Homo sapiens: one gene and its partners. The protein of the gene in region 4 purifies or fractionates together with the protein of the main gene of each other region. This does not show direct contact. Each region holds a gene or a part of one and is shown on either strand. Other genes may lie near its edges.

Region 1 (4,736 bases), on a different chromosome or scaffold from region 4:
CCTCTTTGGAAGGACACAGCGTCTACACAGGCATTCCAAGCTTCACCAGAAATGAGCTCACAATCCAAAATTACAAGACCCAAGAGGTAATACCACTCTGAGTTCTTGGATAACAACAAACTATACAGTTTCTCAAGAGCATTCGGAATTAGAATAATTAGTTATAGAGTACTAAATAAGTATGTTTAACACGTTTAAAGAAATAAAAGGTAGGGGGAAAAACATGAAAGAACAGAATGCCATCTAAAAGGCAGAGAAGCTTGGAAAAGAACAAAATAGTGAAATATAAGTATTTAAGTGGATATTTCAATGATGCTTAAACAGCAGACTAAATACAACTGAAGAGAGGACTTGGAGGTAATCTGGCATCACCCAGAAAGACACACGGCTTAAGAGACATGGAGGACAGAGTGAGAAGGTTGACAACGTGTCTAGATGAAGAGAATCAGGAGACAAGTGGGAGAACATATTCCCAGGAAGTGCCCAAGAAGCTTCTGGAGATCATAAAAAGCATGACTTCTGATTCGGGAATCATAGTGTATCCTGGGTAAGATTATATTTTTTATTTTTTATTTTTATTTTTAATTTTATTTTTTTTTTTGAGACAGAGTTTCACTCTTGTTGCCCAGGCTGGAGTGCAATGGTGTGATCTTGGCTCACCGCAACCTCTGCCTCTCAGGTTCAAGCAATTCTCCTGCCTCAGCCTCCCGAGTAGCTGGGATTACAGGCATGCACCACCACGCCCGGCTAATTTTGTATTTTTAGTAGTGACGGGGTTTCTCCATGTTGAGGCTGGTCTCCAACTCCTGACCTCAGGTGATCTGCCCGCCTCGGCCTCCCATAGTGCTGGGATTACAGGCGTGAGCCACTGCGCCCAGCCTGGGTAAGATTATTAAAGAGAAATCTATGCCTGGACACACAGTGGTGGGATCACAGGGCACTAGGGACAGACACTTTTATAGCTGCCATAAGAAAAGACAGACGAGCAGTAGTTCACCTAGCTGCGGAATTCTCAACGGGAACCAGAGGACAGCAGTATCGCGCCCTTAAAGCATGGCCAGAACACAAATGTCGACCTCGAAATGCTGCCCCAGCTAAACCAATGTCCAGCAACGGCCCAAGAAACAAGACAGAAGCTGCTTTCCACCGCGGGTTCCCACCACGAAGGGGTCTTTGGACTTCCAAAGGGTGCACGCTAGGGTGAAGAGTGCTGAGGGTGCCCCCAAAAAGGATGCACATCTGCGATGTCAAGGGACTTGGAGAGCAAAGAATTAGATGGGTAAAGTTGGGCAAATATGTAAAATAGTGGCAATAAAGGGTTGAGTTTGGCCGGTCATCAACAACGTGAATCCTGCCCACCCCCATGTATAGCCCCCCGCGCAGCGGTAGGAGCCCCAGCCCAGAACGCTGTGGCTCCCGTGAGCCCTCGCGCTGGCGGCGGGTGCGCAGGCGCCCGCGCGTGTACGGTAGGTTCTGGAACGCAGCCGCTGAGGGGTCTGGCGCCATGTTGGGGCTGAGGGGAAGGAGGAGAAGCTCCTGAAGCGGCGGGCGCGCAGCGGGAGTGGGAGTGGGGTCGGACCAGGGCAGCTAGAAGCCCTGCCCTTCCGCCTCAGCGGATCATGACCCGGGCGGCGGCCGCGAAGGTCGCGGTGGTGGGGGACGTGCCCTGGCGGGGCGGGCGCTGAAAGATGATGCCGTTTCCGGTGACAACCCAGGGACCACCGCAGCCGGCGCCGCCGCCGAATCGCTACGGCGTCTCCTCGCCTATCAGTCTAGCGGTCCCCAAGGAGACGGACTGCCTCCTCACCCAGAGGCTAATAGAAACCCTCAGGCCCTTCGGGGTCTTCGAAGAGGAAGAGGAACTGCAGCGCAGGATTTTAGTTTTGGAAAAATTAAATAATCTGGTAAAGGAATGGATACGCGAAATCAGTGAAAGCAAGAGTCTTCCCCAGTCTGTAATTGAAAACGTTGGAGGAAAGATTTTTACGTTTGGCTCTTACAGATTAGGAGTACATACGAAAGGCGCAGATATTGACGCCTTGTGCGTTGCACCAAGTCATGTGGATCGAAGCGACTTTTTCACCTCATTCTATGCTAAACTGAAACTACAGGAGGAAGTGAAAGATTTAAGGGCTGTCGAGGAGGCATTTGTGCCAGTTATCAAACTGTGTTTTGATGGGATAGAGATTGATATTTTATTTGCAAGATTAGCACTACAGACTATTCCAGAAGATTTGGACTTAAGAGATGACAGTCTACTTAAAAATTTAGACATTAGATGCATAAGAAGCCTTAATGGTTGCCGGGTAACCGATGAAATTTTACATCTAGTGCCAAACATTGACAACTTCAGGCTGACTCTGAGAGCCATCAAACTGTGGGCCAAGTGCCACAATATCTATTCCAATATATTAGGTTTCCTCGGAGGTGTTTCCTGGGCCATGCTAGTAGCAAGAACTTGTCAGCTTTATCCAAATGCAGTAGCGTCAACTCTTGTACGGAAATTCTTCTTGGTATTTTCAGAATGGGAATGGCCAAACCCAGTGTTACTGAAGGAGCCTGAAGAACGGAATCTTAATTTGCCTGTATGGGACCCAAGAGTAAATCCCAGTGATAGGTACCATCTTATGCCTATCATCACACCAGCATACCCACAGCAGAACTCCACATACAACGTGTCTATTTCAACCAGGATGGTCATGATTGAGGAGTTTAAACAGGGGCTTGCTATCACACACGAGATTTTGCTAAGTAAGGCAGAGTGGTCCAAACTCTTTGAAGCTCCAAGCTTCTTTCAAAAGTACAAGCATTATATTGTACTTCTGGCAAGTGCATCAACAGAAAAACAACATTTAGAATGGGTGGGCTTGGTGGAATCAAAGATCCGAATCCTGGTTGGGAGCTTGGAGAAGAATGAATTTATTACACTGGCACATGTGAATCCACAGTCATTTCCAGCACCCAAAGAAAATCCTGATATGGAAGAATTTCGTACAATGTGGGTGATTGGGTTAGGGCTAAAAAAGCCAGATAATTCTGAAATTCTCAGCATTGATCTCACCTATGATATCCAGTCTTTCACAGATACTGTTTATAGGCAAGCAGTGAATAGTAAGATGTTTGAGATGGGTATGAAAATTACTGCAATGCATTTAAGAAGAAAGGAACTTCACCAGCTGCTGCCTCATCATGTGCTTCAGGACAAGAAAGCACACTCAACAGAAGGTAGAAGATTGACAGATTTGAACGACAGCAGCTTTGACTTGTCTGCAGGCTGTGAAAACAGCATGTCTGTGCCTTCATCTACTAGCACTATGAAGACAGGCCCATTGATTAGCAGTTCTCAGGGTAGAAACAGTCCTGCCTTGGCTGTAATGACAGCATCTGTGGCTAACATACAGGCTACTGAATTTTCCTTGCAACAGGTGAATACCAATGAAAGTTCAGGGGTTGCATTAAACGAAAGTATTCCTCACGCTGTCTCTCAGCCTGCCATTTCTCCATCACCAAAGGCCATGGTCGCCAGAGTTGTTTCTTCAACATGTCTCATAAGCCATCCAGACCTTCAGGAAACTCAGCAACAAACATATCTAATCCTATAGTTGGAGTCTAGAGGATATTCTTGCCTCATAAAGAAGAAAGGACCAAGAAAACCAAAACGGAAGAGGAGAAACTCAATACAAAGACAAGTACAACTCCATTAGAAAAATTCAGACAGCATCTTCTCTATTGGCCTCTCAGGGAACATCAGTATAGATCTTTCCGGTATCCCTGTTCTCCCTGCAAATCCAATTCCTGTTATCAAGAATTCAGTAAAACAGGTTGAATGGTTAAAAACAACCTCAAGGGTCCATGAACAATATCTGCCAACTGAACCTGTTGTCTTCAAATACTAAGGAAGGAGAATGAGGGGTACGGGACTAGATATGACTTGAAATAGATTGAGGCTCATTTGGTAACTTCCTTTACTGAGCCAGTCTTGATCAGAAGTCCACATTAGTATGTGACAGCTAGAGGTACTGTTATTAATGTATCAGCAACAGTTACATTAACTATTTCAAAGGACTACTGCCCTTAAAATGAAAAAACCTTTCAGCTATGTTTGTACCCGTGACTGACATCTGGACTGGATTTATGCTTGATGCATTGTTGGGAAAATATGCAATACAAACTGGTATCAGAATTCCTTATACTGATGAGGCACTTTATATTTTTTATTAGAAAGTAGAACTAATTTTAGATTTTTCAAATTGGTGAATTTTATTTTTCCCTGAAGAGGTTTCTTCACTATTAATCTTAAAATTGGATACCATTGTGCAGCGGTGTACTGTACTTCAGAGAAAGCATAAAAGTACATCTAGCTCAGTCCCTATGAGGTAGCTGTAACCCTTTAAAATGAAATGTCAACTTTAAGGTATGTTTTTGACATCAACCATTAGTAGGTCTTTGGTTTTGATGGCACACTATGGAGAAAGGACACACTGGTTTTAATCTGTAGAACTGTTTTAGAGTAATTAGCAATCAAACATTTTCTTTGAGCTATCAAAGCTCCATATTCTCTTGTCCTCAATCATTAGTCCTAAAACAAAAAAGCTTTTTGCCTCCCTCTCTTCTCTTTGCCTGTATGCACACAGTATGCTTATGTGTCATTTCACAAGAAAAAAGGAATAATATTCTCTAAACCATGATGTGAAACTGACAATCCTGTGGCCACATGGCACAAAACACCAAATATT
Region 2 (4,087 bases), on a different chromosome or scaffold from region 4:
TGTGTCTCAGTTACCATTGAATTGTTGCTGCATTTCCTAATTATAGAGATCTTATAATGAATCAAGGCCCTCTTGATAAAAACAAAAAAGGGATTAAGTACTCCTGACTTCAGATTCTGAAAACCTTTGCCAGATGGTGCCTGGTACCGTGAGTTTGGAAACAACTCATGTTCTTAGCTGGCACTAGCTTCATACTCTCCCTTTCCTGTCCTGGACCAGGCTCCAGCATAGCAAGTAAAATACCTAAAAAGAGCCCCTAGTTAAAAAATTATATCCCCAGAGGTTGGTGTCCTCTTGTGTTGATCCATTTGAAGTGGTGCGTTATCACTGCTTCTCAAACTTGCATGCACAGAAATTGCCTGGAATCTTGTTAAAATGCTAATTCTAACATTTCCCTAGGTGCTGCTAATGCTACTGGTCCACAGATCACACTTTAGGAATGCTTTACACCATACACTCAAAGCAGATGGTTCTTTTCTGAAAGCGAGATTTTTGTAAAATGAGTGATACAATATCAGATGACACGAAGGTAGACGAACAGGAAAGGGCACTCTCACGAACCCCGGAGGACAAGTGGAATTTTAGACCAGCAGTGCCAATGCGAGGAGAAAGAGGCTCCCCCAGTCACTGTGGCCAGGCACACTGAAATCCCCATCTAGATAGACTCCAGTGTGTTTGACTTTTGCTATCAGGTGCTTGGATTACTATGGCTGTGGATGGGATGAATGTAGGAGTGAATTTCAAGCAGGAGTGAAACAGTAGTAGTGTGCACAGGGGAGAGAGTGGGAAACAGAAAGTGTGGGACTAGGAGCCGAAATCACTGGGTGGTAATCCCCATGTCTTATGGGGTCTGTGGGCCAAGCAGGGAGTGCTATCCCTGGGACCCACCTTTCATGCTGGCTCCAGATGTGAACATCAGGGCTAGAGATAATCGGAAGCTCTCTTCTCTGGTCACATTTTGCATGTTGTAGTTGCTTTTATCTCATTTGTATAGTATAGGTTTAAGACAGTGAGAAAAGGTGATTTTGGTAGTTGGAGGAAAGGAGGTCTGGGATTAATTCATTCAGAAGACCACCTAGAACCTACTTGGTCTGATAGCTGTTTCTGAGGAGGTGACAAAACCAGAAATCAAAAATTACAAAGATGAAGCCACACGTGGTAGCACAGGTCTGTAGTGGCTTCCTACTTGGGAGGCTGACGTGAGAGGGACCCTTGAGCCTAGGAGTTTTAGGCCAGCCTGAGCAACATAGTGAGACCCATCTCTAAAAAAATTAATCAATCAATTGAAATTTAAAAGTTACGAAGATGAATGCTTTTCTGTTTCTGAGTCCTGAAGAATTTAATTTGGGCTCACTCTAAATTGAGTGCTTGAGCTGTTCTCTGGGTTAAATCTACTGATAGAGACTTCTTTTATGCAGAGAGGCTTGGAGAGTGCTTCAGTATTTTATGGCCCCCTTTGGAAAAACTCCAGTTACCACTAACATGGATCAGATACCTACTGTGTGCCCAATGCCATACCTGGTGGTTCTTCCTGTTCTTTTTTTCCTACCCTGGAATTCTCTAGATAGGGAATCAGCACTTTTGAATTGCATTTCCTCCCATATTCAAGAAATTCTCCAGTGCACATGTAAAGAGAATGCTGTTTTATGGTATTAAGAATATGGTTGTACTGGGCGAGGTGACTCATGCATGTAATCCCAGCACTTTGGGAGGCTGAGGCGGGCAGATTGCTTGAACCTAGGAGTTAGAGACTAGTCTGGGTGACATGGCGAAACCCCTCTCTACTAAAAATACAAAAATTAATAGAGCATGGTGGCACATGCCTATAGTCCCAGCTACTCAGGAGGCTGAGGTGGAAGAATTACCTGAGCCCAGGGAGATTGAGGCTGCAGTGAGCCAAGGTTGCACCACGGCACTCCAGCCTCGGTAACAGAATGTGAGACCCTGTCTCAAAAAAAAAAAAAAAAATGCAGTTGTAACTTTGGGAGGCCAAGATGGGAGGATCATTTGAGGCCAGGAGCTCATGACCATCCTGGGCAACATGATGAGGCCCTATCTCTATAAATTTTTTTTTTTAAGTTAGCTGTGTATGGTGGTGTGTACCTGGTCCCCGCTGCTCAGGAGGCTGAGGCAGGAGGACTGCTTGAGCCCAGGAGTTCAAGGCTGCAATGAACTACAGTTGTACCCCTGTACTCCAGCCTGGGTGGCAAGAGCAAGACCCTGTCACACACATACACAAGGAATGTTGTTGTGGTTGTAAAAAGGTGAAAATAATATTCATCCACATGTCTTTGTTTTGTAGTAATTAACAGGAAACTACATGTGTTTGGAAATAGCTCTTTATAACACAGTTGCCTTCTCATTGTAACTACAACCTAGTTTGCAGGGCAGTTTGGGCAGCCCCATATCTAGGCAGCCTTCCCCAGTACTGTACGTACCCACAACAAACTCATCTTGTTGCCTGTGAGTTACAGCTTATTTTCTCCTTTTTATCTCAAAGCATCGTGCCAAAATTATATATTTGTCCAATTGCCAAGAAGCTACGTATATAGATTGTATTACCTAACCCTTGCCCTTTCTTCCGAAGTCTTTTTTCAAGGCTCAATATTAAAAATGGGGACAAGAACACACTGCACCCAAGGACATGCTTGTGGTATTCAGCATACCTCCCATAAGGAGCCACGGGCCACATCCTTCCCAGAGCTAGGAAAAGGCTTCTCTCCCTGAGGCATCCTGTGCCTTCTTTGGCTTGGTTTGTTAACTGGGGGGCCTTGTTCTATCTACTTTGGCTGCCAGGAAGCTAATAGCCAGGGGGTTTAAGTCTGATTTTTGGTTTCTTTGCTTTCTGGCATAAATCTTTTTTTTATCCTCTAAGCCTCTTCTTTCTTCCTTCCTTCTCTGCGCTACCTGGCGCTAATCTTTTTACTCTAGATCACTGCTACTCAATCAAAGCATAATATGAGGCACAGATAGGACCTTCATGTGTAATTTTAATTTATCTAGTATCCATATTTGAAAAAATTTTAGGTGAAGTTAAATATTATATTTGATTTAAATCAATATACCAAAAATAGTATTTAACATGTAATCAGTATAAAAAGTTATTTTATACATTTTTTTGTTTCATACTAGGTCTTCTAAATCCAGTGTCTATTTTATATTTAAACAGCATATCTATTTTCAGACTAGTCAATTTGAAGTGCCCAATAGCCACATGTGGCCAGTGGCTACTGTATTGAACAGAACAGGTATAGATTTAGTGGTGTTTGGTTTTGTTATATGTATATTTTACTGTAAGCCACCTTATACCCAGAGGAATCAGATTTTCAGAGTGGCTAAGAACACTCCATCCCTGGCTGGATGCAGTGGCTCACACCTGTAATCCCAGCACTGTGGGAGGCTAAGGTGGGTAGATCACTTGAGGTATATTATAAATAACTAATAAATGTCATATTTATCATTTTTATTTTTGAAAACATAGACACATAGTCATGAGGTTTATATTCCTCCCCCAAGAATTTAAGATTCTTAAGGATTGTAGGGGTTATGAAAAGGAAACTTTCAATTCATAACAGAAATGTAAAAGCATCTAAGTACAAGCTTTAGACTTTGTTTTTCAAAGCTTATTGTTTAACTAATACATTATTTTATTGCACTACTAGTACTTTTAGATGGTGTGAATGCTCTAGACAGAGATAAAAGTTTCTGCACCACTAATTCCTTCTTCTTTTGTTGCTCCAGGGTGAGTTTGTAGATGATGGGACTGAAACTCACTTCAGTATCGGGAACCATGACTGTTACATAAAGGCTGTCAGTAGTGGGAAGCGGAAAGAAGGGATTATTCATACTCTCATTGTGGATAATAGAGAAATCCCAGAGATTGCAAGTTAATGAATTTTCATCTTAAGAAGTAAAGATCAGGACTTTTTAATTACTGTGGTAATTAAATGTGTTCAGTATGTACTTATCAGTACATTTAGTCTGCAATGTTTTAATTTTTTAAAAAGTTACATGAAACTAACATTCCAAGGGTCAGGAAAAAAACCAATTATGTATAGTCATAAAAATTACAATTTATGATGCAAAT
Region 3 (4,087 bases), on a different chromosome or scaffold from region 4:
TTGGGAGGCCTAGGCGGGCGGATCACGAGGTCAGAAGCTCAAGACCAGTGTGGCCAACACAGTGAAACCCCGTCTCTACTAAAAATACAAAAATTAGCCAGGTGTGGTGGCGGGCACCTGTAATCCCAGCTACTTGGAAGGCTGAGGCAGGAAAATTGCTTGAACCCAGGAGGCAGAGGTTGCAGTGAGTTAGATCCTGCCACTGCACTCCTCCAGCCTGGGGGACAGAACTAGACTCCATCTCAAAAAAAAAAAAAAAAAAAAAAAAAGGGATGCGGCTGGGAGGAGGGAAGTTTGGCAGGGATAGGCTACAACTCCATGGCTCTGGGCTGTGGTCACTTACTGCTTCGTCTGGGGGCATCCACCCTCCAGGGCCCTCAACCACGCCCTTTTCTCCATACAGGGAGTTTGAGGACATCACCAATGCGAGCTTTCATCTGGACATGTGGTGAGTGACCTGGCCTGCCCCTAGGGATGGGAAGGGAAGGGATCTGGGGTGAGAGAGGCGGAACCTCCTCCTGGAAGAGGTCGTAGGCACTCTCTCTGCTTCCTTCTCAAACCTCTGTCCTGCCAGGGACCTGGACACTGTGGAGTCTGTCCGACAGAAGCTTGGGGAGCTCACGGATCTGCATGGGCTTCGCAGGTTCGTGTTGCAGGGCTCACAGGGAAGGGGTTGGGGCTCCTTTTGCCCTCCATCCCCCAACATGCACACTGGATGCTGGGGTGCAGGCTCCTTTGGGGTCCAGGTGGCTGCGGCCGGGGGTGGATTCCAGCCTAATCCCTTCCGACCCTTGCTGCGTCCCCCTTATGGGACCCTGCCTGACGCAGGATCTTTAAAGAGGCCCGGAAGGACAAAGGCCAGGACGACTTTCTGGGGAACGTGGTTCTGAGGCTGCAGGTGAGGAGGATGAGGAAAGGGGCCCAGGAGCGAGGCAGAGGGAGGGGGTTGGGAGGGGTTCTGGGGAGAGGCTCTGTGTCCTCACAAAGCTGAGCCTGGGGTCCACCTCCTGTCGCCTCCGCTGCCCCGACTCTATGAGGTTCTGACGCTCACGGGCTGGGCATCCCCGCCTGTCAGGACCTGCGCTGCCGAGAGGACCAGTGGTACCCCCTGGAACCCCGCACTGAGACCTACCCAGACCGAGGCCAGTGCCACCTCCAGTTCCAACTCATCCATAAGCGGGTAGGTCGGGTACTGGGCCAGTGGCCATGCCCAGCTCTTGCGGCGGTCTGCTGGGTTGCGGGGCTGGCTGCACCCAGTGTGAGGCCCTGTCTGCTCACAGAGGCCTCATTGCAGAGAGCCACTTCGGCCAGCCGCTCGCAGCCGAGCTACACCGTGCACCTCCACCTCCTGCAGCAGCTTGTGTCCCACGAGGTCACCCAGCACGAGGTATTGCCCTCCTGGGGCTGGGCGCAGCCGGGGCTGCCCTTCAGGTCCTGACACTCCTCCACCTGCTCCCCTCAGGCGGGAAGCACCTCCTGGGACGGGTCGCTGAGTCCCCAGGCTGCCACCGTCCTCTTTCTGCACGCCACACAGAAGGACCTATCCGACTTCCACCAGTCCATGGCGTGAGTACACAGCCCTGGGCAGAACCCCTGAGCCACCAGCCCCCCACGCCCCCTGCCCTCCTCCAAGCCGGTAGCCCAAAGTGTAATTCTCAGCAGAGTTCCCTTTGGCCCAAAATGTGTGTTTTAAGTTTTGAATCAGTTGCCAATTTTAAAAAGTCTAGAGATTCGGCTGATGCGGTGGCTCACTCCTGTAATCCCAGGACTTTGGGAGGCTGAGGCAGGAGGATCACTTGAGCCCAGGATTTCAAGGCTGCAGTGAGCTATGATCACACCAACACTCCTGCCCGGATCACAGAGTGAGACCTCATTTCCAAAAAATATTAGAAAAAGCTATCTGGAGATTTGACATACCATCCAGATCTCCAGCTTCTCATGAAACACAAGTGCTGGAACTGCAGGGTCATCATTTTGCTGCTTTTTTTTTTTTTTTTTGAAACGGAGTTTCACCCTTGTTGCCCAGGCTGGAGTGGAATGGTGCAATCTTGACTCACTGCATGCAACCTCTGCCTTCCAGGTTCAAGTGATTCTCCTGCCTCAGCCTCCCGAGTAGCTGGGATTACAGGCATGCGCCACCACGCCCAGCTAACTTTGTATTTTTAGTAGAGACGGGGTTTCTCCATGTTGGTCAAGCTGGTCTCCAACTCCCGACCTCAGGTGATCTGCCTGCCTTGGCCTCTCAAAGTGCTGAGATTATAGGCATGAGCCACTGCACCGAGCCATTTTGCTGCTTTTTTTTTTTGAGACAGAGTCTTGCTCTTTCGCCCAGGCCGGAGTGCAGTGGCACGATCTTGGCTCACTGCAGGCTCCGCCTCCTGGGTTCACGCCATTCTCCTGCCTCAGCCTCCCGAGTAGCTGGGACTACAGGCGCCAGCCACCGCGCCCGGCTAATTTTTTGTATTTTTAGTAGAGATGGGGTTTCACCGTGTTAGCCAGGATGGTCTCGATCTCCTGACCTCATGATCCGCCCGCCTTGGCCTCCCAAAGTGCTGGGATTATAGGCGCGTGCCACCGCGCCCAGCCTTTGCTGCTTTTTTGAGTGGACAGAGCGGAGCGATGTGTGTGCCTCTGCCCATCATGGCTGCCATTGGGCCCACTTCAGTTGCTTTCGTCTCCTGAGTCCTGGGCATTTGAATTTGGACCCGGTCCCTAACCCCAGCCCCGCTTCCCAATGCCATAGCCTTCAACTCAGCAAAACTACGCGCTGATAAGGACAAATCTATGTTGAGGGCAACTCACGTCAAGTCCTAGGAATGCCGGGGAGGGCACAGGGGGTCACAGCCATTCCAGTGCATGTGAGTAGGGCAGAGATGGGACATAGCCGGCCGGGCACGGTGGCTCGCGCCTGGAATCCCAGCACTTTGGGAGGCCGAGACAGGCAGATCACTTGAAGTCAGGAGTTTGAGACCAGCCTGGCCAACATGGTGAAATCCTGTCTCTACAAAATATAGAAAAATTAGTCAGGTGTGGGGGCGCATGTCTGTAATCCCAGCTACTCGGGAGGGTGAGGCACGAGAATCACTTGAACCCGGGAGGTGGAGGTTGCAGTGACCTGAGATCACACCACTGCACTCCAGCCTGGGCGACACAGCGAGGCTCTGTCTCAAAAAAAAAAAAAAAGAGATGGGACACAGCCAAGTGCTGGCCAGGGGAGGAACAGGAGCAGGATGCCGACTCAGGCCTGGGCTGTGACTTGGAGTCTGAGTGGGAGGCGGAGGGAGCCCAGGGGAGTGCATTTCTGGGCTGGGGTCAGCTTGTGTACTGCTAGGACCTCAGGCAGGTGGGTGATTCGGAGACAAGGGTGGAATGGTGGTGCGGCTGGAGACTGGAGCAGGCACCAGATGGGGAGGGACCTGGTTTGCCTGCAGGGCCCAAGCACAGTAATGCAGGTGGCTGCAGTGTCCAATAGGGACTTCGGCCTGTCCCCAGGCTGCTCCTCTCCCCCATCCTCTGCCCTCCCACGGGACCTCGTTTGTGTGATATCCCCCCAAACCATCTGAAAGGAAGTTCTCACTGATGCTTGCCACATGTGCACGAAGGCTCAGGTTCATAGATCCTATTTTTCTTTTCTTTTCTTTTTTTTTTTTGAGCTGGAGTTTCCCTCTTGTCGCCCAGGCTGGAGTGCCATGGCACAATCTCAGCTCACTGCAACTTCTGCCTCCCAGGTTCAAGTGATTCTCTTGTCTCAGCCTCCCAAGTAGCTGGGACTACAGGTGCCTGCCATCACACCTGGCTAAATTTTGTATTTTTGGTAGAGATGGGGTTTCACTATGTTGGCCAGGCTGGTCTCAAACTCCTGACCTCAGGTGATCCACCCGCCTCGGCCTCCAAAAGTCCTGGGATTACAGGTGTGAGCCACTGTGCCCAGCTAATCCAATTTTTCAAAAACAGCAAGAAATCCTGAAGTTTTAAAATCACAAAGATCTCAATCTGGGCAATTTGAAAAGCATCTATGGAAACAAAGAAAAAAAATCCTGGCTGGTCACAGTGACTCATGTCTGTAATCCCAGAACTTTGGGAGGCC
Region 4 (4,087 bases):
TGGGGATACCAAGTGGCCTAACATACATGTAACTGAAGTCCCATGAGGGTTAATCATGTTACCTCTTTTTGTTATAAGGGTCTGATCCTCTGTACGAAGAGGGTTGCTCTTTTCCCACTGTATATATTTCTTCCACATATCTACTTGTTGAGCTTCTTGAGGAGTATTCTGAGGAGGCACCGAGGGAGCATTACGGTCCAAGCCTTTCATTACTGTCTCATATTCCTAGACAACAAGGATTTAGAATTCTTTGGTGAGCCAGGAACAACTGAGATATATGGCGGATGGGGTAGATCAGTTTGGAAGACTGTTCAAGATGCCTACTTTTTCCAAATACCACTTTGTTAATATAATCTAAAAACTATTTAAGAGTAGAGAGAAAGATAAGAGTATTACCCACTCAAGAACAGGTTCCCAGGAGTGGGTAAACAAAACACCCATGGGCCCTCTCTGTAAGTGATCTAGGAGGTTACTTTCCAGGATGTAAGAGTTGACAGATCAATAGGATTGAAGATCTGGTGGCATTATTATTGCCATCTTTGGAGAAACTGTCTTTTAAAATTTCAATAGTTTGTATTAATAGGCTATTTTTCCTAACTTCCAAGAGTGTCAATGAATGGAAAGGTATGCACACAATCAAAATGTGTCCCTGAGAGCTATGTTATTAGACCACAGAGTAATACAATATTCAGATGAACCCAAATAATAGAGGGAAAAGAATTACTTCATCAATTCTAAGTAGAGCCTTGTCTCTCTCTATGTCTTCTGTTTCCATATTTTAAAAAACAATTTCTTCTAAACCCAATTTATTATATTTTGTTCTTACAAAGAGAGATTTCATTTCAAATATGTCATCTCCTCAGACTTTGCAATTAATTGCTGTTAAGATTGCTAATGACTGAAAATATCAAGAGTAATACCAGACAGGGAAAGCTCTGCTGTAAACAACAGACTCATAATAATCATTAAAATAGCCTGATGGAATTCCATACCTTTGCTACACGTCTAGCATTCATATAATCTCTACTCCGATCTTCAATCATTTTTTTAGCTAAATGAATATTGATACCCTAGAAAAAAACAAAAATATTTTAAAATTAAGTATAGTTTCTTAAAAATTAGTACAATACAGTTAATTTATTCATTTACTAAATAACTTTAAATTTTTATTTTAAAAGATTTCTTGTTTAATAAAGGTTCATACAGCTCATGAAAAGCAGGGAAAAAAGGTTCAATCACATTATACATTTCCAAGATCAAGGAGGATGTGCTTATGTCTTATGAGCTGGCAGTAAGTTTCCATTTATCAGGAACTTTTAAAGATAGAATCATTTGAAAAGGCTCAATAATTTCATATAAGATTCTACTGAAAAAAAAATGACATGGCTCATGCCTGTAATCTTAGCACTTTGGGAGGCCGAGTTGGGTGGATCACTTGAGGTCAGGAGTTCATGACCAGCCTGGCCAACATGGTGAAACCCCGTTTCTACTAAAAATACAAAAAAATTAGCTGGGTGTGGTGGTGTGCGCCTGTAATCCCAGCTACTTGGGAGCTTGAGGCAGGAGAATTGCTTGAAATGGCGAGGCAGAGGTTGCAGTGAGCTGAGATCATGCTATTGCACTCCAGCCTGGGCGACAGAGCGAGACTCTGTCTCAAAGAAAAAAAAAATATGTACAGATTCATCTGGGTGAATAGCCATGGCTTGACTTTGATAGCCCTTTTCTTTTTCTTTTTTATAAACAGAGTCTTCCTCTGTCACCCAGGCTACAGTGCAGTGGTGCCATCCTAACTCACTGGAACCTTGAACTCCTGGGCTCAAGTAATCCTCTTGCCTCAGACATAGGACTACAGGTGTGCCCTGCCAGATCTGGCTAATTAAAAAAATTTTTTTTGTTGAGACATAGTCTTGCTATGTTGCCTGGGCTGGCCTCAAACTCCTGGCCTCAGGCAATCCTCCCACTTCAGCCTCCCAAAGTGCTGGGATTACAGGCATTAGCCATCACACCTGGCTAATAGCCCTTTTCTAACTAGTTCTGTTGTATAACACTTTTTAAAAAGACAAACAGAAGTAGCAAGGAAAGATAAACATTACCACTCAGTGAGTACTCCAAGGATTCTAAGACCCTTTCAGGGAGTCCATGAGATCAAAATAGTTGTCATTATAACACTAAGACATTATTTGCCTCTCTCATAAAATACAGGAGTTTTACAGAGGCTACGTGACATTTAGTATTATAACACACTAAATGGAAGCAGATATGAAAATCCAGCTGTTTTCTATTACACTAGATATGAAAGAGATTTGTGAAAATATAAAACAATGCCACTCTTCTCACTACACACTACATTTTTTGTTTTGGAAAATACAGTTTTTGGCCAGGCATGGTGGCTCGTGCCTGTAATCCCAACATTTTGGGAGGCCGAGGCGGGCTAATTGCTTGAGCTCAGGAGTTCAAGGCCAGCCTGAGCAACATGGAGAAACCCCATCTCTACAAAAAATTAGCTTGAGAGTGGTGGGGCATGCCTGTAGTCTTAGCTACCTGGGAGGCTGAGGTGGGAGAATCACCTGAGCCCAGGAAGTTGAGACTGCAATGAGCTGTGATTGTGCCACTGCATTCCAGCCTCGGTGACAGAGTAAGACCCTGTCTCAAAAAAATAAAAACAAAAAATTCTTTGTGATCTTCAATAACTGTTAAAATCCAAAAACCATAAAGTTTGAAAACCACAGCTGATGCCTGTGAGGGAACAATTTCACTACCCTATATAGTTCTTCCAAATCACAATATACATACGAAAAACTTTCTTTTTTTCTCTTTAGAGACGGGCTCTCACCATCTTGCCCAGGCTGGTCTCAAACTACTGGGCTCAGGCAATCCTTCCATCTCGGCCTCCCAAAGTGCTGGGATTACAAGTGTAAGCCACCATGCCCAGCCAAGGAACTTCCTTTTAATGCTAGAGCTTATTTGGCATGTGTATTTATGTATTCAGATTGATTAGCTCAGTTATTAAAAGTAGATACCAATAACACAAAGATCTTGGATTGTAGCCACACACTTCACAAATTCAAACCAATCATCACATCACTGTAATCAGGTGAAAAAGGTGCACAGCAACCAAAAAATAATTCCCAAAAGGTACTATTGGAAACATAATTCCCAAAAGGTACTGTTTTATAGGTCAATGACAATGTGTATGTGTGTGTATGAATGTGTGGATATGGCTTAGCAAAGAATAAAAATAGTTTTATAAGAACTATTGTTCTTCAGAGTATCCTCTAAAAAATAACACTATATGGAGACTCTCAAACCTTGCAAAAACATTATAGTGCTTTCATTACAATCAATAAAAAAAGTGTAACACTGATACAGAAAGGCTATAATCTACAAATCCACAATGCATAGAAATTAAAATGGCTTGGTTTATAATAAACAACTACTCTGACCTAATTTACCTCTTCATACTTGTTATAGTCTCTCCAGAGCTGTTCAATGTTGATCATCGGATTAACACAACCTCGTTGATAAACTCTTCGGACAGCTGTTATTCTTTGATTTTCTGCATAAGATCCTACAGCTTCCCTGAGATTGGATAAGAAATGCCATCAATTATATTATAACCAAATCTCATTCAACCCAGCAATCTCACTACTGGATATCTACCCAAAGAACAACTCTATGGAAAATAGTATGGAGATTTCTCAAAGAACTAAAAATTATATTTTAGCTAAATCAACTGTAGATGTAAAAAAAAACTATACAAATACTTACACGCCTTTTAGGAAATTGATGTAATCCACCCAAATCTAAGAAATAAAATGAAATGTTAATATCTTTCTTGGTATTCTTACATTTAAGTGCATACATTAAAAAGTTTTAACTCTACCTGATAGGACATAATTTCCATTCCAATTTTATCCAGTGCAAAGTCATATGCTTGAGCCATTTTTTCTCTGAAATGAACATGAAAGACGTGGTTTTTAAATTTTTTTGTTATTAAAATTTATCTACAATTAGGCCAGACATGGTGGCTCATGCCTGTAATCCCACTGCTTTGGGAGGCCGAGGCAGAAGGATCACTTGAGACCAG
Region 5 (4,087 bases), on a different chromosome or scaffold from region 4:
TCCTGTGGTCTGTGGGCTTTGTGTTACGGACATGGAATGAGAGATAGAAAGACAGTTTTTTTTTTTTTTTTTTTTCCTCAGAGCAGAGGAGAATGAAAAGTCTGGATGATTTACTGGAGCCCTAGAAGAGAGTTCTTGTTCAGCTGGTGTCATTGCAGGGCAGAGGATTAAGTGTTTGGGTAGAGTGCTCTCCAGCTCAGATGGAATCTATCTGAGCCTGGTAACAGGCCAGCATCTGCTCTGGACCTTTCAGGAAGTGCTTGCTTAGAGTGTGGCCTGTTTTGTACCTGGCACTCTGAGGGCCAGGGTGTAGTGGAGATCCTCAGGCCTGGGTACTTGTAGGAGCCTGGAATGAGCAGGTCAGAGGCATATAAGTACATGAGTTCCTAGAGTATTGGTCCAATCCCCCGCCTTTTGCTAGAGAACATTGCTTGATGAGCTTTAGAGCCAGTGATTGACCAGTTCCAGGGTTATCCCCTGATGATCAATGTACTACATTATACCTGATTCCAGTCTCTCCTGAATTAAATGTTTCATTTCTTGTGGTGCTCCTGGAACATGGAGATCGCCCAATTTCTGCCTTGTTTGCATCTTCACTGTTCCCTAGTCTGGACCTTCTTTCTCACCCAGGAATCAGCTGACTTGGGCTGGGCAGCTGGCTGCCTCAGGTCCACTGATGTTTCTCTGGTGCCCTTGGTACTAATGATTGACATAAATTATGCCTAGTGCAGGGCTACCTGCCAACATCTGTCATCACATTCAGTCCTCCAACAGCCCTATGAGATATAGGTCCTAGTATTGTCTCTATTATATACATGGGGAAACTGAGGAATCCTATAACTTGTCCAAGGTCACAAAGCCGGGAAGTGGTATAGAATTGGGGTTTAACTCTTAGTATGTCTGACCCTAGGGCAGGTGTGCCTGTCCATTTGACTGTACTGCCTTGCCCTGAGCTGGACTGGCTGGTTATTTGTGAGTGCTGTCATGTCTAAGGTAGGAGTGACTGCCCATCTGAACTTAAGGGACCATGTTGCTGTTTTCTGGGTCCATGTTGCGTTCCTCCCTCTGGTGAGATCCAGCCAGGCGTGTCATGGACCTGCTTTATGAACCTTTGGTGTAACCCATGATAAAGTCCTTAACCTGGGCAGGCATGTTCTTCCTGGGCAAAGTGTGGCTTCCCTGTTTGGGAGTCCATTGCACTTTAAGGTAACAGATTATTGAGTAGGACTGGATAGCTGCAATATCTAGCAGAGTGTGTTTTGGGTTTGACTCTTGGTTCTGTCATTGATTTGCTGTCAGATGTCAGATATGTAGGAAACCTTCTCTCAGCCTCAGCTGTTTGTCATTTGTATCTATCTTATATCTGAAATGGAGGTAGTTATCTAGCTTAGAAGGTTTGGGTGAGAATTAGATAGTAGAAATGAAAGATTTTTGGAAACAAATAGTGCTTATCTCAGACTATGTTCCCAGGAAACAGCCTGAGACAGAGCTTAAGTACTTAATGCTTTATTGGAAGGTGTAATTGCAGGGCAGCCAGGGTGAGGGAAAACAAAAGTGAGGTGCAGGCCTGTGCGATGGCTCATGCCTATAATCCCAGCACTTTGGGAGGTCGAGATGGATGGATTGCCTGAGGTCAGGAGTTTAAGACCAGCTGGCCAATATGGTGAAACCCCATCTCTACTAAAAATACAAAAATTAGCTGGGCATGGTGGCACACACCTGTAGTCCAAGCTACTCAGGAGGCTGAGGCAGGAGAATCCCTTGAACCTGGGAAGTGGAGGTTGCATTGAGCCAATATTGTGCCACTGCACTCCAGCCTGGGCGACAGAGCGAGACTGTCTCAAAAAAACAAAAGAAAAAAGTGAGGTATAAAGGAGGATGGGAGGTGGTGTTTTAGCAAGCTGGCTACTCTGCACAGAGATGTACTTGGTTACCCTATGAGGGCCCTTTGGTAGCCACTGGGGAGGCCAGTCTGGTACTTCAACAGAGTCTGGAGATAGTGAGAGGAGCCAGAGATTCTGGCGTGGGCCTGGATAGTCTCCTCCACTGGGCTGAGGCAAAGTAAATACCCTGGGACCTGGGAGATGGGTGAGACCAAGAGGTTGCAAGGTGGGACGTAAGATGCATCCAATATAGTGGTATATGGATTTTATCCTCAAGTGTAGTTCCCTTTTGTGGGTTAGTCTCATCCAGACTGCCAAGTCTCTGCCAAGACTATGACTGAAAACCCAACTTGGCTTTTGCATGTCAGTTTTAACAGCCTTCTCTGCTACTTCATTGTCTAGTTACTGAAGCAAGACTTTGTGGTGGTGATGGTACCCAGGTGGGGAAGTGGAAGTCAACCACTATTCATGTACCAGACTGAGAAAGTATGTGGATAGATACAGATAAACATCTTGGCTTTATTAGGTTCTTCGTGAAGGAGAATATTTTTTCACATAAAGTAGTTGTTGAAGATACGAAACCTGGCATGGTGAGATGAGGCTAGAGAGGGCAGTAGGGCCTGGTCACACACTCAAAAGGACCCTTTGGGCTAAAGAGTTTGAACTTTATCTTGACGGCAGTAGAGAGCCAAAGGAGGGCTTTGATAAACCATGCTGGCTACTTTGTAGAGCAGAGGTGGGAGGAAGGCCAGATGACATGTGGAGAGGCCAGTGTAGTGGGGGCCAGGATGCCTGTAGGGGAAGTTAGGGGTGGCTCAGATCAGGGTGATGACTGAGGCTAAGGAGAGTAGGGTACCCCCCATACTTGCCTAGGGTGCCGTGGCAGCAGCTTATAGGCCTGAATGGACATCCATGTGCTTTGGTGGCAGGGTCTCCTGGAGCCTCTGGATCCTCTTAGGCTGAACACACAGGTCCTTTCAGCCCTGTTATCCTAGAGTTGGAGGCAGCGGGGAGCCGTGTCCAGTTAGGTTTTCCCCCTTCACAGAAGGCAGGCAGGTTCTTGTTCAGTGCCAAGCAAGACCAGTTTGTTCTCAGCAAGCTCATGTTCTGTCTCTAGGCTGTTAAATACATTGTTAAAACTCAGGCTGTTGCATTTGGGTTGCAGCTGGGAGCTTGGCAGAGATTCTGCCTGATGAGGTAAGGAGAGAAGCTAAGGACGCTGCTGGTTTGCAGCTGGAAACATCTTTTCATGGCCATTTGGCCAGATTGTAAATGTCTTTTCCAAAGTTCAGGTTTGGTGGGACCTCTGGTTGTATGTCTTGGAATTGCCCTGTGTTTAGAAACAGTGCCAGTCGCCTGATGGGTGAATCACTGTTGCTGGGATGTTGGCAGGTTTTGCAGGACTTTCCTGTGGGGGTCCAAACACTAGGGCTGGCAGGGCCCGTTTGGAGTCTGTTTGAGAAGGGCCTGCTTTGTTTTCTTTACATTTTAAGCATATGATAAAATAATTTTAAAAATTGCTATAGAATTTCTTGTAGAAAGATTAGAGAAACAAGCATAAAAATAAAAAGAAATTATTTCACCAAGATATAGCCAGATGTATGACTCTTTTCTTGCATCTCTCTATATACACATATACATTAATTTTTCCTTACAAAAATGGAATTATAGAGTGCATATTATTGGGGCCCACTTTTCTCACTTAACAGTATGCTTAGATCTCTTCATGTTGATATATAGTATTCATTTTTAATATACTCCATAAAAACTCATTGTATAGAAGAAATGTAAAATCTTCTATTGTTGTAGTTTCCTAATTTGAACAAGTCTGTGGTGAAGTATTTTTTGTTGTGTTCCTGGTATGGGACAGACATTGTTCTAAACTCTGGGGATGCAGCACAGATAAAACTCAGTATTGGTTTTCTGCTCAAGATGTCACTTTGTTTTTCATAAAAGTGGGTTTGACATTGTTCACCTCCAGACTTATTCCAGTTGGATTCTGAGGGTTTCTGGGAGGGCTTTTAGCAGCACTGGACACTTTGTAGGGGCACTCAGCAGGTACACATACTTTCACCTACTCTGTCTTAAGCAAGCTGTGGGCATAGTTATGAGATGGGTTGGAGGTTGGCCTTTCCCACATTGTGGGGCACAGTCCCTCTCGGATGCTGCCTCCTCCCAATCTGACTCTAATTAGAGGACTTTTT

The links.
Region 1: the proteins of CSTF3 (region 4) and PAPOLB fractionate together in Homo sapiens (co-fractionation; one large-scale study listed by BioGRID). This does not show direct contact.
Region 2: the proteins of CSTF3 (region 4) and FAIM fractionate together in Homo sapiens (co-fractionation; one large-scale study listed by BioGRID). This does not show direct contact.
Region 3: the proteins of CSTF3 (region 4) and UNC13D fractionate together in Homo sapiens (co-fractionation; one large-scale study listed by BioGRID). This does not show direct contact.
Region 5: the proteins of CSTF3 (region 4) and P4HA2 purify together in Homo sapiens (co-immunoprecipitation; one large-scale study listed by IntAct). This does not show direct contact.

What each region holds. Positions count from the first base shown.
Region 1 is NC_000007.14:4,858,763-4,863,498, reverse strand, and holds the start of PAPOLB (poly(A) polymerase beta), read left to right. Parts: upstream 1-1,468; 5' UTR 1,469-1,688; coding exon 1,689-3,602; 3' UTR 3,603-4,736.
Region 2 is NC_000003.12:138,629,189-138,633,275, forward strand, and holds part of FAIM (fas apoptotic inhibitory molecule 1), read left to right. Parts: intron 1-3,741; coding exon 3,742-3,891; 3' UTR 3,892-4,087. UniProt on the Homo sapiens protein: Plays a role as an inducible effector molecule that mediates Fas resistance produced by surface Ig engagement in B cells.
Region 3 is NC_000017.11:75,837,318-75,841,404, reverse strand, and holds part of UNC13D (protein unc-13 homolog D), read left to right. Parts: intron 1-403; coding exon 404-448; intron 449-574; coding exon 575-643; intron 644-828; coding exon 829-898; intron 899-1,075; coding exon 1,076-1,180; intron 1,181-1,294; coding exon 1,295-1,387; intron 1,388-1,462; coding exon 1,463-1,566; intron 1,567-4,087. UniProt on the Homo sapiens protein: Plays a role in cytotoxic granule exocytosis in lymphocytes. Required for both granule maturation and granule docking and priming at the immunologic synapse.
Region 4 is NC_000011.10:33,102,115-33,106,201, forward strand, and holds part of CSTF3 (cleavage stimulation factor subunit 3), read right to left. Parts: intron 3,951-4,087; coding exon 3,884-3,950; intron 3,804-3,883; coding exon 3,769-3,803; intron 3,580-3,768; coding exon 3,453-3,579; intron 1,071-3,452; coding exon 993-1,070; intron 226-992; coding exon 63-225; intron 1-62. UniProt on the Homo sapiens protein: One of the multiple factors required for polyadenylation and 3'-end cleavage of mammalian pre-mRNAs.
Region 5 is NC_000005.10:132,221,038-132,225,124, reverse strand, and holds part of P4HA2 (prolyl 4-hydroxylase subunit alpha-2 isoform 2 precursor), read left to right. Parts: intron 1-4,087. UniProt on the Homo sapiens protein: Catalyzes the post-translational formation of 4-hydroxyproline in -Xaa-Pro-Gly- sequences in collagens and other proteins.